Linked DNA regions of Homo sapiens: region 2 is linked to region 1. A link means that fine-mapping ties the variant in region 1 to the expression of a gene that starts in the linked region. Tissue or cell type: whole blood. Region 1 holds a variant in brackets; the other region holds the start of a gene. All regions are shown on one strand. Distances are between the middles of the regions.

Evidence for each region. PIP is the estimated chance that this variant, and not a neighbour inherited with it, causes the effect.
Region 2: IQCE starts here. The variant in region 1 is fine-mapped to the expression of IQCE in whole blood (GTEx, PIP above 0.99).

The regions. Positions count from the first base shown.
Region 1 is chr7:2,530,437-2,538,489 of GRCh38, reverse strand. It overlaps BRAT1 (BRCA1 associated ATM activator 1), which reads left to right. Exons shown (of 14, transcript NM_152743.4): 14 at 1-680. The coding sequence ends at 421. Among named protein-coding and RNA genes, the nearest start is that of MIR4648, 7.4 kb to the right of the region's middle. RefSeq lists enhancers at 1,488-1,987, 1,988-2,489, 3,199-4,118, 4,119-5,039, 6,225-7,197 and 1 more. The variant C/T (reference allele first, on the strand shown) is at 4,028.
Region 2 is chr7:2,555,234-2,563,276 of GRCh38, reverse strand. It overlaps IQCE (IQ motif containing E), which reads right to left and starts at 4,298. Exons shown (of 22, transcript NM_152558.5): 1 at 4,060-4,298. The coding sequence starts at 4,095. It overlaps BRAT1 (BRCA1 associated ATM activator 1), which reads left to right and starts at 7,753. Exons shown (of 14, transcript NM_152743.4): 1 at 7,753-7,790. RefSeq lists silencers at 3,617-3,686, 3,907-4,416, 7,759-7,998 and an enhancer at 7,169-7,846.

The DNA.
Region 1 (8,053 bases):
GGCCCCAGCCCAGCCACTCACCGAGGCACTGAGGGCTCTCTGCCACGTGGGGCTCTTTGACTTCGCCTTTTGTGCCTTGTTTGACTGCGACCGCCCTGTGGCGCAGAAGTCTTGTGACCTCCTTCTCTTCCTGAGGGACAAGATTGCTTCCTACAGCAGCCTGCGGGAGGCCAGGGGCAGCCCCAACACTGCCTCCGCAGAGGCCACCCTGCCGAGGTGGCGGGCGGGTGAGCAGGCCCAGCCCCCAGGGGACCAGGAGCCTGAGGCTGTGCTGGCCATGCTCAGGTCCCTAGACCTGGAGGGCCTGCGGAGCACGCTGGCCGAGAGCAGCGACCACGTGGAAAAGAGTCCCCAGTCCCTCCTGCAGGACATGCTGGCCACGGGAGGCTTCCTGCAGGGGGACGAGGCCGACTGCTACTGAGCAGAACCAGAGTCTGCCACTGGGGCTCAGGACCAAGGGAGGCAGCACCATGTCCTTCTGTGGGACACTGCCAGCCCCAGGGCTCCAGCCCAGCCCGGTGGATCCTCTGGGGAAGCCAGGACCAGGAGAGAAGCAAGGTCAAGAAATCCCACAGTTTGATGTATTAAAGAAATGACTTATTTCTACTCAAAATAAATGGCATTGAAGTCTTTCTTTAACCCTTTTTGAGTTAATTTAATAATAATGATCTGAGACAAGGGTCCAGTGTCATTCATTCGCATGTGGATATCCAGTTTTCCCAGCACTGTTTATTTTTTATCTATCTGTCTGTCTGTCTGTTTTTTGTGATGGAGTTTCGCTCTTGTTGCCCAAGCTGGAGTGCAATGGCACGATCTCGGCTCACTGCAACCTCTGCCTCCTGGGTTCAAGTGATTCTCCTGCCTCAGCCTCCCGAGTAGCTGGGATTACAGGCGCACGCCACCATGCCTGGCTAATTTTTTTGTATTTTTAGTAGAAACGGAGTTTCACCATGTTAGCCAGGCTGGTCTCGAACTCCTGACCTCAGGTGATTGACCCACCTCAGCCTCCCAAAGTGCTGTGATTACAGGCGTGAGCCACTCCGCCCGGCCAATTTATTTTGGTTAAAATTATTCCTGGGGGCTGGGCGCAGTGGCTCACGCCTGTAATTCCAACACTTCGGGAGGCCGAGGTAGGAGGATTGTTTAAGGCCAGGAGTTTGAGAATAGCCTGGACAACATAGCAAGACCCCATCTCTACACATTTTTTTTTGTTCAGAGATGGAGTCTCAGTCTTGTTGCCCAGGCTGGAGTGCAGTGGTGTGATCTCGGCTCACTGCAACCTCCGCCTCCTGGGTTCAAGCAATTCTGCCTCAGCCTCCCCAGTAGCTGGGATTACAGGCGCCCACCATCATGCCTGGCTAATTTTTGTATTTTTAGTAGAGACAGAATCTCACCAGTTTGGCCAGGCTGGTCTCAAACTCCTAACCTCAGGTGATCCACCTGCCGTATCTCTTTTGTTTTTAATTAGCTGGGCATGGTGGTATGCACCTGAAGTCCCAGCTACTTGGGAGGCTGAGGTGGGAGGATTGCTTGAGCCCAGGAGTTCGAGGCTGCAGTGAGCCGTGATCACACCACCGCACTCCAGCCTGGGTGACAGAGAGAGACCCTATGTCAAAACAACGCATTGAGTGCTTGGAGTTCTCTGCATTCTTGGCAGCACCTCAAATCTGTGCTAGCACCTCAAATCTGTGCTAGAGAAGACCTGTAGCCCTAACTTCTGAAGAACTTTTTCTTTTTGCTTCTCTTAGCACCAAGTGTCTTTCGTGTGGAGGGAGCAGGGCTAATTCCGTTTCATTCTTACCCTAAGAGTGTAGACCTTTAGGTTTTCAGCTTAAGGTGGGAAGGGTTTTCTATAATGCTCCCCATTTTGGGCAGGACTGGCCCTTGACTTCTGTCCCCCTGACCCCTCAAGGCCACAGAATGAGAACCCAAGTTTGCTGGTTTTGGCAAATGCCCTCCAACAAAAGGGCACCTCCCGGGTGGCACAGCCGTGGGCTGGTGCGCCCCACCAGGGTGCAGCAGTGACATCAGCCCCGCCTCGGGGCACATGTCCCTTCCTGGTGACAGCAGGCTAGGTGCCTGGACCAGCCGTTTCCCTGAAGACGATGAAACACGCTGGGTGAAATATCCAAAGGCCAGGAACACTGAACAGCTGACAAGATAGCAGGTAATTAAATGCCAGGCCTCGTGCTGGAGGAAAACTGGACTCAGATACAAGGCCCTCCCACAGGGATCTGGAGAGCCTGGCTCTCAGCTCTGGCCTGGGGGAACTCAGAGAGGGAGGGGCTCTGCGGATCAGCTGCCCCTAGGCAGTAACACTGAACCGCAGTACCCAGTGAAAAGAGACTGCAGGGCCCAGCGTGGTGGCTCACGCCTGTAATCTCAGCACTTTGGGAGGCCGAGGTGGGCGGATCTCTCGAGCTCAGGAGTTCAAGACCAGCCTGGCTAACACGGTGAGACCCCGTCCACTAAAAATACAAAAATTAGCTAGGCATGGTGGTGGGCACCTGTAATCACAGCTACTCAGGAGGCTGAGGCAGGAGAATCACTTGAATCCGGGAGGCAAAGGTTGCAGTGAGCCAAAATCACACCACTGCACTCTATCCTGGGCAACAGAGTGAGACTCTGTCTCAAAAAAAAAAAAAAAGGAGCGAGCCGGGGCGCAGTGGCTCACGCCTGTAATCCCAGCATTTTGAGAGGCCGAGGCGGGTGGATCACTTGAGGTCAGGAGTTCAGGACCAGCCTGGCCAACATGGTGAGACCTTGTCTACTAAAAATACAAAAATTAGCTGGGCATGGTGGCAGGTGCCTGTCATCCCAGCTACTCAGGAGGCTGAGGTAGGAGAATCGCTTGAACCCGGGAGGCAGAGGTTGCAGTGAGCCAAGATTGTGCCACTGCACTCCAGCCTGGGTGACAGAATGAGACTCTGTCTCAAAAAACAAACAAACAGAGACTAGAAACTCACACCAATCATTACCTCGTAAGTGCAGTTAGCTCAGGAAGTACAATATTTCCAAAAAGGGGAGAGGTTGCAATTAGCCAAGACTGTGCCATTGCACTCCAGCCTGGGCAACAAGAACGAAACTCCGAGGAAAACCTCTGACACACAGCCTCTCCCTCTCCCTCTCCCTCTCCCTCTCCCTCCCCCTCCCCCTCCCCCTCCCCCTCTCCCTCTCCCTCTCCGTCTCCCTCTCTCTCCACGGTCTCCTTCCACGGTCTCCCTCTGATGCCAAGCCAAAGCTGGACGGTACTGCTGCCATCTCGGCTCACTGCAACCTCCCTGCCTGATTCTCCTGCCTCAGCCTGCCGAGTGCCTGTGATTGCAGGCGCGCGCCGCCACGCCTGACTGGTTTTCGTTTTTTTTTTTGGTGGAGACGGGGTTTTGCTGTGTTGGCCGGGCTGGTCTCCAGCTCCTAACCGCGAGTGATCCGCCAGCCTCGGCCTCCCGAGGTGCTGGGATTGCAGACGGAGTCTCGTTCACTCAGTGCTCAATGGTGCCCAGGCTGGAGTGCAGCGGCGTGATCTCGGCTCGCTACAACCTCCACCTCCCAGCTGCCCGCCTTGGCCCCCCAAAGTGCCAAGATTGCAGCCTCTGCCCAGCCGCCACCCCATGTGGGAAGTGAGGAGCGTCTCTGCCTGGCCCCCCATCGTCTGGGATATGAGGAGCCTCTCTGCCTGGCTGCCCAGTCTGGAAAGTGAGGAGCGTCTCTGCCCGGCCGCCATCCCATCTAGGAAGTGAGGAGCGCCTCTTCCCGGCCGCCATCCCATCTAGGAAGCGAGGAGCGCCTCTTCCCCGCCGCCCATCGTCTGAGATGTGGGGAGCGCCTCTGCCCCGCCGCCCTGTCTGGGATGTGAGGAGCGCCTCTGCTGGGCCGCAACCCTGTCTGGGAGGTGAGGAGCGTCTCTGCCCGGCCGCCCCGTCTGAGAAGTGAGGAAACCCTCTGCCTGGCAACCGCCCCGTCTGAGAAGTGAGGAGCCCCTCCGCCCGGCAGCTGCCCCGTCTGGGAAGTGAGGAGCGTCTCCGCC[C/T]GGCAGCCGCCCCGTCCGGGAGGGAGGTGGGGGGGGGTCAGCCCCCCGCCGGGCCAGCCGCCCCGTCCGGGAGGTGAGGGGCTCCTCTGCCCGGCCGCCCCTACTGGGAAGTGAGGAGCCCTCTGCCCGGCCAGCCGCCCCGTCCGGGAGGGAGGTGGGGGGTCAGCCCCCCGCCCGGCCAGCCGCCCAGTCCGGGAGGGAGGTGGGGGGTCAGCCCCCCGCCCAGCCAGCCGCCCCGTCCGGGAGGGAGGTGGGGGGATCAGCCCCCCGCCTGGCCAGCCGCCCCATCCGGGAGGTGAGGGGCGCCTCTGCCCGGCCGCCCCTACTGGGAAGTGAGGAGCCCCTCTGCCCGGCCAGCCGCCCCGTCCGGGAGGTGAGGGGTGCTTCTGCCCGGCCGCCCCTACTGGGAAGTGAGGAGCCCCTCTGCCCGGCCACGACCCCGTCTGGGAGGTGTGCCCAGCGGCTCATTGGGGATGGGCCATGATGACAATGGCGGTTTTGTGGAATAGAAAGGCGGGAAGGGTGGGGAAAAAATTGAGAAATCGGATGGTTGCCGGGTCTGTGTGGATAGAAGTAGACATGGGAGACTTTTCATTTTGTTCTGTACTAAGAAAAATTCTTCTGCCTTGGGATCCTGTTGATCTGTCACCTTATCCCCAACCCCGTGCTCTCTGAAACATGTGCTGTGTCCACTCAGGGTTAAATGGATTAAGGGCGGTGCAAGATGTGCTTTGTTAAACAGATGCTTGAAGGCAGCATGCTCGTTAAGAGTCATCACCACTCCCTAATCTCAAGTACCCAGGGACACAAACACTGCGGAAGGCCGCAGGGACCTCTGCCTAGGAAAACCAGAGACCTTTGTTCACTTGTTTATCTGCTGACCTTCCCTCCACTATTGTCCTGTGACCCTGCCAAATCCCCCTCTGCGAGAAACACCCAAGAATGATCAATAAAAAAAAAAAAAATAAAAAAAAAAAGAACGAAACTCCATCTCAAAAAAAAAAAAAAAAAAAAAATCTCCCAAAGAAATACCAATAAACAAGAAAATAGTCAAATGTAAAAAAAAAAAAAAAAAAAAAAAAAAAATTTCCAAAAAGGTGACCACAGGGAGAAAAACATGAAGATAACCACCAGCTCAGACCCAGCCGGGGCTTGTGGCCATGCCCACCTGCTCCTGTGTGTCCTGGGCCTCGGGCAAGCCACTCATCCTCTCCCCACTGTTTCCAGTCTGTAAGCTGGGATTAGTGACGCTGCCTTCTCAGTTGTGGGAACCTAGAAGGCAGCAATGGGCCTCTCTCCCTAGGTTGCAACCCGGGGCTGGCACGTAGTAGGTCTGTTTCCAGCTGCCACACACGCTACCTTACCAGGGGTCCCCAAGAGACAGGACAGGGTGATGGGCCCATTTCACAGGGGGAAAAACCGAGGCAAAGAAAGGCAGTGGAGACTCGTGCTTCTGCTTCAGTAGCTCCTGCCATGGACTTGTCATGGGAACCCCCTCCCACAAGCTCTGTCCCCGGCACCCTCTGGCACTGTTAGCCAGCGGAATCCAGCTGTCACCATGGCCTGGTTCTTAGCACCCCTGGGAACTTTTAGAGCCTCTGGCCTGTGCTAACTGAGGTTGGGCAGCTGCTGGCCAGGGCCCTAGAGAGAGGGGTATCAGGTAGCTAGTGCTGAGTAACAAATAGCTCCAAACACATGACTTCACATGTCCTTAGTATTAAAGGGCCTGGTGGTACTGCTGCTCATTGCTAGGCCTGGCAAGTCCTAGCTGGGCTCACTCACACATCTGTGGGCAGCTGGGAGCTAGCTAGTCCAGGATGGCCTCAGCTAGGGTGACCCAGGCTCCATCGCCCTCTTGCCTTCCAGCAAAGCAGCCCAGCCCGTTCTCGTGCTATAGCAGGAGTCGGGGAGAGCAGGCAGAGGCACGCATGTCCCTGGAGGCTTAAGCTCAGAGCTGGGAATGTCATTGCTGTCACCTTTTATTGGCCACAGCAAGTCATAAGACAGGCTCAGATTGAAGGATGGGGAAGTAGACGCCACCTCTAGACAGGAGTTGGGGCAAAGTCACACAGCAAAGGGCGTGGTGATTCAGGGAGGAGTGGGGCATCGGGGACACGTTTGTAACTGATCTACCACAGAGGGGAGCCCCCCTTTGAGAAAGTGCTTGGTGGGCCTTGGTGCTTACGCAGCCACGGACCAACCTGCTAGATGGGGCCTTCAGTAGGGTGGCGGGACGTCAGTTTAGCCTCAGGATTCGACTCCGAGCCTCTTGCGAGACCACGTCTTGGGCAGCATCGTAGACCCGGCTGTGAGCACAGAGTGGCTCTTCCAGAAAGTTTGTTGAATGACTGACTGACCTAAGTCAGTCCCTGTGCCAGGCAGCCCAGAGGGACCAGCCCAGAGCCTCCTTCTCGGGGTGCAAGCCTGGCTTGGGATTGGGGGGTGTCTGCACTCGTGGAGCCCCCCATGCCTGCCGGGAGCCTGAAGACGCAGAGACCTCCTGCCTCGCCTCGCCCCCTCCGTGGGGACCCTCTTCCCCACACTCCTTGGTTCCTGTCGGAGCCAAGATGTGTCACCATGGAAACCGCTTGGCAAACGCTGGCAGGCAGAGGCGGCCAACAGCAGCTCTCCCGATCGAGCTCCGGGCACCGGCTGGAGCAACGTCGCGGGACGGCGTGAGCGAGCACACCCAGCCGTGTGTGACACGCGTGGGGACAGAGGCCGGGGCGGCTGCGGGAGGGCGTGCGGGGAGGTCAGGGCGCCCCGGCGTGTATGCGCCCACGTGCGCGCCTGTGCGTGTGCCAACAGTGCAGCCACATCGGAGCGCGTGTGCTCCGAGTGTGATGGCCGCGTGGGCCGGTGCAGGGTGTGTGTGGGGATGGGGGTGTCTGATTGGTGCTGTGACCTGCGGCAGCACAGCCGCCTGCGTTGAGTGCCCACGGTGGGCTGGACATTGCACTAGGTGCTGACAGGACCGGCAGAGGTGGCCACTGCCCTCGTCCCCAGCCTGCACTCCTGGGCGAAGGCTGACGCTGAACAGGTACTTGTAAGAGTCGCCGAAGTGCGTGCCGGGAGGGTTCTGGGAAGAGGCAGCTGTGGGGCCTGAAGCCTAAATGTGGGGTGGGAGGCATCCAGGCTGCGGCTCCAGGCAGAGGGCACAGCCCGGCTGTGAGCCACCACGCCTGGCCCCAAGGGCCTTCCTGTGTGTCCAATTCTGGGCTCAGAAGCAGGGGGTCACCCTGCAGAATATCTAAGAAGGCTGAGGCTGTGTGGGCACATGGACCCAGCAGGGAACAAGACTTGCCCATTGTTCTGACAGACTCGAAGATGGATCTGGCCCTGGTCCCTGCTTTCCCTCTGACCCCAGGCCCACCCGGCAAGAATGGCTGAAGTCACATAGCAGCCTGGCCCTGGCCCCTCTGAGCCTGTGGAGAGCCCTAGTTGTCTGTGATTGGGGAGGGGGGATCAAGAGACCCAACTGCATTGCCTGCCCTCCTTCCCAGGCTTCCAGTCCTCCCAGTGGATCCCACCTCTGCACCTTTGCCCAGGCTGTGCTGAGACCTGGAAGGCCCCTTCTCTCCCTACTCCATCTTGACAAAGCCTTCCTGCTTCAGCTCAGAGGCACCTCTTCCAGGAAGTTGGCCCTGATGGCCCCAGTGGAAGGGAAGTTCCTTTCAACTGAGTGGGGAGGCGCCCCACCCTAGCAGCCCCTCCCAGACCCCAAGCAGCCTTGGGGCTCCCCAGGCACTCGCCTGGCAGAACGGAAGCAGGGGTGGCGGCTGAGGTCTGCCACCCTCGCTGAGCGCCCTGCAGCCCCTGTGGTTGCAGTTTTACTTGTTTTGAAAGCCCCATTAATGATCAGAAGTTTGGGAAAGGGGGCCTGGCTGGGCTAGACTGGGGGGACATGGAGCCCCAGGGACCAGCCAGGCCCCTTTCTGACCAGACCTCTAATCTGATGTGATGGCACCACTGGTGGGTGGGACACAGCTGTCCCCAGAATGTACCTGGGGGAGGAATGACTTCACC
Region 2 (8,043 bases), 25 kb before region 1:
TGCAGTGAGCCATGATCGCACCACTGCACTCCAGGCGCAAAGAAACAAAAGCAAGCTGAGCACCTGCTCATGCCTGTAATCCCAACACTTTGGGAGGCCAAGGAGTGAGGACTGCTTGAGCCCAGAAGTTCGAGACCAGCCTGGGTGACATAGTGACACCCAGTGTTGACAAAAAATTAAAAAATTCGCCAGGCATGGTGGCACACGCCTGTAGTCCCAGCTACTTGGGAGGCCGAGGCAGGAGGATCACTCAAGCCCAGGAGTATGAGGCTGCAGGGAGCTGTGATTGTGCCACTGCTCTCTAGCATCGACAACAGAGTGAGGTTCTGTCTCTGAAAAACAAAAACAAATAATCAAAAACACAAAAGCCATGTTTAGAGGGCAATTTGTAGCTGTAAATGCCTATATTAAAAAAAAAAAAGAAAGAAAGATCTCAAGGCAATAATCCAATAATCTAAACTTTCACCTTCAGAACCAGGAGATAGAAAACTAAACTCAAAGGAAGTAAAAGAAAGGAATAAAAATTACAGTGAATAAATGAAATAGAAAATAGAAACAATAGAAAAATCAATGAAACCAAAAGTTGGTTCTTTGAAAAGATCAACAAAACTGACAAACCTTTAGCCAAGAAAAAAAACCCAGAGACACGAAATTACCAAAATACAGGGGGAAAAAAAAAAAAAGGGGGCCTCACTACTGACCTTATAGAAGTAAAGAAACACCCAGAACCACATGGTCTCGCTGGTGAATTCTATCAAACATTTAAAGAGAAATTAATACCAATGCTTCACAAACCCTTCTAAAAAACAGAAAAGAAGGAAATGCTTCCCAATTCATTCTATGAGACCTATATTACACTGATACCAAAAGCAGACAAAGAAATATCACAAGAAAAGAACACTACAGACCAACATTCTTTATGAATACAGTTGCAAAAATCCTCAACAAAATGCTAGTAGGCATGAAAAGGATTTTATATATATATATATATGTACCCTAATTGGTACTGGTATATATTTATGTGCACACACACACACACACACCCCAAGACCAAGAATGAAAGATTGGTTTAACATACAAAAATCAGTCAATATTCCATATTAATAAAATGAAGAAAAAGAAACATATGATTTTCTCAAAAGATACAGAAGGTATGTTTGACAAAATCTAACACTCATTCATGATAAAGATACTCAATAATCTATGAAGAGAATTTCCTCAGCCTAATAAATGGCATCTACAAAAATCCAGGGCAACACAATATTTAACAGAGGAAGACGGAATGTTTCCCTTCTAATAGCAGCAGCAAGACAAGGCTGTCCTTTCTCATCACTTCAATTCAAATTATACTTGAGTCTTTTGCCAGGACATTAATGTGAGAAAAGTAAATAAAAGACATTCAGATTGAAAAGAAGGAAGTAAAACTATCTCTATTCACAGACAACATGATTTTATACATAGAAAATCCTAATGAATCTACTAAAAAACTAGTAAACATAATAAATGAGTTCAGCAAGTTTGCAGGATATGAGATTCATATAAAAATATTATTGTAAGGCCGGACGTGGTGGCTCAGGCCAGTAATCCCAGCACTTTGGGAGGCCAAGGCGGGTGCATCACGAGGTCAGGAGATCGAGACCATCCTGGCTAACAAGGTGAAACCCCGTGTCTACCAAAAATACAAAAAAATTAGCCGGGCATGGTGGCGGGCGCCTGTAGTCTCAGCTACTCGGGAGGCTGAGGCAGGAGAATGCTATGAACCCGGGAGGCGGAGCTTGCAGTGAGCCGAGATCGCGCCACTGCACTCCAGCCTGGGCAACAGAGCAAGACTCCATCTCAAAAAAAAAAAAAAAATTATTGTATATATTAGCAGTAAATAAGCTGAAATGAAATTAAGAAAATTCAATATACAATAACATCAAAAAGCATAAAATACTTAGGAATAAATTTAACAAAAGCATAGGCTTTGTACATTGAAAAATATAAACCATTGCTGAAAGAAATCAAAGATCTACATAGGGCTGGGAGCAATGGCTCACGCCTGTAATCCCAGCACTTTGGGAGGCCAAGGCAGGTAGATAACCTGAGGTCAGGAGTTAGAGACCAGCCTGGCCAACATGGTGAAACCCCACCTCTACTAAAAATAGAAAAATTAGCTGGGTGTGGTGGCAGGCGCCTGTAGTCCCAGCTACTGAGGAGGCTGAGGCAGGAGAATCCTTTGAACCTGGGAGGCAGAGACTGCAGTGATCTGAGATGGCATCATTGCACTCCAGCCTGGGTGGCAAAGCGAGACTGTGTCTTTTTTTTTTTTTTTTTTTTTTGAGACAGAGTCTCACTCTGCTGCCAGGCTGGAGTGCAGTGGCACGATCTTGGCTCGCTGCAAGCTCCACCTCCTGGGTTCACGCCATTCTCCTGCCTCAGCCTCCCAAGTAGCTGGGACTACAGGCGCCCGCCACCACGCCCGGCTAATTTTTTGTATTTGTAGTAGAGATGGGGTTTCACTGTGTTAGCCAGCATGGTCTCGATCTCCTGACCTCATGATCTGCCCACCTCAGCCTCCCAAAGTGCTGGGATTACAGGCATGAGCCGCCGTGCCCGGCCAAGAGACTCTGTCTTAAAAAAATAATAAAAAATAAATAATATACATAAATTATTTTTATAATCACAACAAGCAGTTTTGTTCTTAAAGATGAAGAAGCAGTAACTGAAGGCCAGTGTAGACAGGCAGGCCCTCCAGATGAGACAGGACGTGGTGCCCTGGGGAACAAGCAGGCAACTTCAGCTGCTCCAAGTTGGCCAGCAGCACCAAGCCCCTACTGCGGGTGCAGCTGTGCTGAACCCTGTGGTCTCCTTAGGAGGAAGCAAGGTGAGCACAGTTCCCTTGATGTGAAACCTTCCAAAGGCTTCCTCTGTTTCTCCAATAAAATCCAAATTCCCTGCATGGCCAGCAGGACTCCCCATAGTCAGGCTCATGCCCATCTTCTGCTCAGTCTCCTTGCCCGCGTCCCAACGGGCTTTCTTTTTTTTTGAGACAGGGCCTCACTCTGTTGCCCAGGCTGGAGGGCCGTGATATGATCACAGTTCACTGTAGCCTCCACCTCCTGGGCTCAAGCGATCCTCCCACCTCAGCCTCACTCTGTCTCTCAGGCCTTGGAGGGCCATGATCACAGTTCACTGTAGCTTCCACCTCCTGGGCTCAAGCGATCCTCCCACCTCAGCCTCCTGAGTAGTTGGGACTACAGGCAGGCACCACCACAGCTCGGCTAATGTGATGGTTTTTTGTAGAGATGGGGTCTTGCGATGTTGCCCAGGCTGGTCTGGAACTCTTGGCCTCAAGCGATCCTCCCATCTCGGCTTCCCAGAGTGCAGGGACTACCGGGGGACTACCGGCCTGAGCCACGGCTCCCGGCCATATGGGCCTGTTTCATTTTCTGCACAGCACTTCTCACTTTCTGACACGATCTTAATTACCTGTTTATTACCTTGTCCCTCCGCCCCCCCCCCCCCCCCCACTGGAATGCAGCTTATTCCCGTGTCTCTAACACACAGTAGATATTTACCGGGCAAAGTAACTAACCTAAGGCTCATGCACCCTCGCCCTGGGGAGTACATCGGGCCCCACCCTCCTCCAGGAAGCCTCCTCTGACCAAGCTGGGTTCCCAGACCCTGGGGCTGCCTCCCTCCCACCCCGAAGGCTTGGGGCCACACGGGATCCGTGGATCCCGCCTTAGATCGGGGGTGCCCGGAGGCACTTACACCGTGAGCTCCGTCACCTGCGGGCCGCAGACTCGCAGGCGCCCAGAGGCGAGGGCGCGGCGTCCCGGAGAGCTTCCTGGAAGCGGCGGCCTCTGCGAAAGCGGGCGCGGGCGAGGCTGCAGGCGGCGCGGGGCCTGCAGCGCGCTCTTGTGCGGTAACAATAATGGCAGCTGTCACCCGGCCGTGCGCCCCGTCCTCACGCCCCGGGCCGGCCCCTGCGCGGGGCCCCGAGGCTGCGGGCGACGGAGACGAGCCGAGGCCTCGCGGACGCCCGCCCGGCGTCGCCCCCTCGCCCGTTCTTACCGTGTCCAAGGCCGGCTCCCCGGTGCCCAGGAACATGGTGGCGGCGCTGCCCGGCCGCCCCTCAGGGTTGCTGGCTCGGGCGTCCGGGTCTGGGAATCCGCGGGCAGCCCTGGCCGCCCGCAGCCTCGGGGCCTTCCCTGGCGCCGGCCCGCGACCCCGCTGCCATGGCAACCAGGCCGCCGACCTACCCAGCCGGGTAAGCGACCTGCGTTCCCCCTGGGGCGACCATGCGCGTGCGCAGAGTCCGCGGGCGCCGGCCGGCCGACCAGGAGCGCTCCCGGAGTTCCCGGGGCGGAGCGCGGGGGCTGAGAGGGGGAAAAAAACCGGCCCGGCGCAGTGGCTCGCGTCTGTAATCCCAACACTATGGGAGCCTAAGGCAGGAGATTCAATTGAGCCCAGGAGTTTGATACCAGCCTGGGCAATGTAGCGAGACCCCGTCTCTCGAAAAATAAAATAAAAATAAAAGCCAGGCATGCTGGTGCACGCCTATAGTCCCAGCTCCTCGGGAGGCTGAGGTGGGAGGATCGCTTGGAGCCCAGGAGGTCGAGGCTGCAGTGAGCTATGATTGCACCACTACAGTCCAGCCTGGGCGACAGAGCAAGACCCTGTCTCAATCAAACAAACACACATAATAAACTTTCGTTTGCTTTCAGGGTCTCACCCAGGGCGCTTTGCTCTACGTGCTCCCTGTGCATAAGTACCTCTTGCCACTCTCCCACCCTTGGGCTTCGCAAACTTTTTGCCCTTCTCTTATCTAATTATAGAGCCAGCGCCTATCTACGACCTTTTATCTGTGATTCTGAATTCCACAAACTTCCGAAAGCCCTTCACAACTCATTTGAAGGCCAGACCAGTCCTAACCTCAACTCTCCGGGAGGAAAACTCTGAGCTGAGGCTATTTATAGTGCTTATTTATCCCACGGGGTGTACATGAGTGAGTTTCACTGAATAACTTCTTTTTTTTTTTTTTTTGACGGAGTCTTGCTCTGTGGCCCAGGCTGGAGTGCAGTGGTGCGATCTCCGCTCACTGCAACCTTTGCCTCCTGGGTTCAAGCGATTCTCCTGCCTCAGCTACCCGAGTAGCTGGGACTACAGGTGCGTGCCACCACGCCCAGCTAATTTTTGTATTTTTAGTAGAGACGGGTTTCACCACCTTGACAAGGATGGTCTCGCTCTCTTGATCTCGTGATCCGCCCGCCTCCACCTCCCAAAGTGCTGGGATTACAGGCGTGAGCCACTGCACCCGGCCCTGAATAACTATTAATACGTTTAATTATGGGGTGTGTGTCACACTCTGCTGTAATCTCATATTTAATGTACATGTGCCATGTCACATTTCTAAAATCTGAACAGTTCTGAATTCTGAAAAAACATTTGTCCCCAAAAGTTTGAGATAAGAAATTGTGGACCTGGGCCAGGCACGATGGTGGCTCACGCCTGTAATCCCAGCACTTTGGGAGTCTAGGGTGGGTGGATCACTTGAGGTCAGGAGTTTGAGACCAGCCTGACCAATATGGTGAAACTCTGTCTCTACTAAAAATACAAAAATTAGCCAGGGGTCGTGGGTGCCTGTAGTCTCAGCTACTCAGGAGGCTGAGACAGGAGAATTGCTTGAACCTGGGAGGTGGAGGTTGCAGTGAGCTGAGATCACACCACTGCACTCCAGCCTGGACATCAGAGCGAGACTCCACCTCAAAAAAAAAAAAAATTGTGGACCTGTGCAATACAATATTCAAATCTGGAGCCAGACTGCTTGGGTTCAAATCCAAACTGTGCCAATCCAGTAGCTGTAAGGCCTTATGAGTTAGCCTCTCTGTGCCTCATTTTCCTCATCTGATGGGCTGGTAGTGGTACTCTCCTACCGTTGCTGTAGAATCATACAAGTTTACAGTAAGTGAAGCACTTAGCACAGTGCTGTTGTTGAGTTTTCTTTACTCCACAATTACCTAACTGGGTGAATGTTAGTATCTCATTTCACAATGAGGAACCAAATTTCAGGGAAGATAACTGTGCATTTCAAACTTTTTCACACATGTAGTTCTAAGGATGTACGTGTGTGTGTGTGTGCAGGGGGCATGCAAGCGTCAGGGAAGTTGCTTTTCCAAGGTTACCCAGCACGGCTGGGCGCGTTGGCTCACGCTGGTAGTCCCAGCACTTTGGGAGGCCTAGGTGGGCGGATCACCTAAAGTCAGGAGTTCGAGACCAGCCTGGCCAACATGGTGAAACCCCGTCTCTACTAAAAATACAAAATTAGCTGGGCGTGGTGGCCCGCACCTGTAATCCCAGCTACTCGGGAGGCTGAGGCAGGAGAATCGCTTGAACCCAGGAGGTGGAGGTTGCAGTGAGTCAAGATTGAGCCATTGCACTCCAGTCTGGGCAAAAAGAGTGACACTCCGTCTCCATAAATAAATAAATAAAATAAAGGTGACCCAGCAAAGTCAGTGCTTTTAAATTTTTAAATTTTAATATCCATAGGAATTCTGCTTTGTTTCCTAAATCTGGTGTTGGCTCCCAACAATCTTGCTATAAAACAATGCTTTGGGAACATGAGCCTTGTCTATCCACTGGCTTTGAGACTCTCGAACACACAGTTAGTGTTTTGAACTCAATTTTTTGGACCTAGTTTTTCTGCCTGTTTGCTTTCTTAAAACACAGGGTCTTGCTCTGTTGCCCAGGCTGGAGTGCCGGGGCAGGATCATAGCTCACTGCAGCCTTGAACTTCTGGGCTCAAGCGATCCTCCCGCCTCAGCCTCTGGAGTAGCTGGGACCACAGGCGCATGCTACCAGGTCTGGCTGATTTTCTTTTTTTTTTTTTGAGACGGAGTCTCGCCCTGTAGCCCAGGCTGGAGTGCAGTGGCACCATCTTGGCTCACTGCAACTTCCGCCTCCCAGGTTCAAGAGATTCTCCTGCCTCAGTCTCCCGAGTACTTGGGATTACAGGCGCGCGCCTCCACGTCCGGCTAATTTTGATATCTTAGAGATACAAAAATTAGAGACGAGACGGGATTTCGCCATGTTGGCCAGGCTGGTCTCGAACTCCTGACCTCGTGATCCGCCCGCCTGGGCCTCCCAGAGCGCTGGGATTACAGGCGTGAGCCACCACGCCTGGCCTTTTTTTTTTTTTTTTTTTTTTTTTTTAAATTTTAAGAGATGGGGTCTCGCTTTGTTGCCTAGGCTGGTCTCAACTCCTGGCTTCAAGCAATCCTCCCAACTGCGCCTCCTAAAGGGCTGGAATTACAGGCATGAGCCACAGCGCGGCCGCGGAGGACTTAATTTGAGAACCTGAAGCTAAATGACCAAGGGCTTTGGTGCACGGATCAGGACGCTTCTCTCCGGCACATAGTTTTCTCGCTCCCGCCGGTGCAGACACTGGGCGCCCTGCAGGCGAAGCCCCGCCCCTCCGGACACAACCCCGCGCCTTCCTCAGAGATCCCCGCCCTCGAGACGCCCCGCCCACCCACCGGATGCTCGGCATGAACCACTAGGCGCCTGGCGGGGGTGATCTGTCGGAGCGACCGGCTTGGCGCCTGCCTGTCCCCAGCCCCTCTCAGCTTGAACTCCTTCCTTCAAGTCTGGGCCCTCGAGGCTTCCAGAGCGGCCTCCAGGGGTGCAGTCTCAGTTCCCCACGCCAGCCGTCTCCGTCCTCCGCCTCCTCCGGGCCTGGCAGGTGGCACTGTCCGGAGGCGGAGCCTTGGGCGAGGGGTGGTTGCGGCGGAGGACGCAACCGAGCGGTGAGGCGCGTGGGCCTTCGGGGGTCGAGGTCGTGGTAGTGGGGCGCGGGGAGGCCAAGACCCGGCCGAGGGGGGCGGGCGGGCCAGGGAGCAGCCCAGCCCGGGGCGTGCGCGACCTGGGCTCGCTTCCCAGCCCGACTGTGGCCGCCTGCTCTGGCGCCCCTTCTGGACTCTCGGGCCTGGCGCTCGCGGCCAAAACTGACTTCAAAGTGTGGGGAGGGTTCCTCTTCCCGGGACGCAGCCTTCCCGGGCA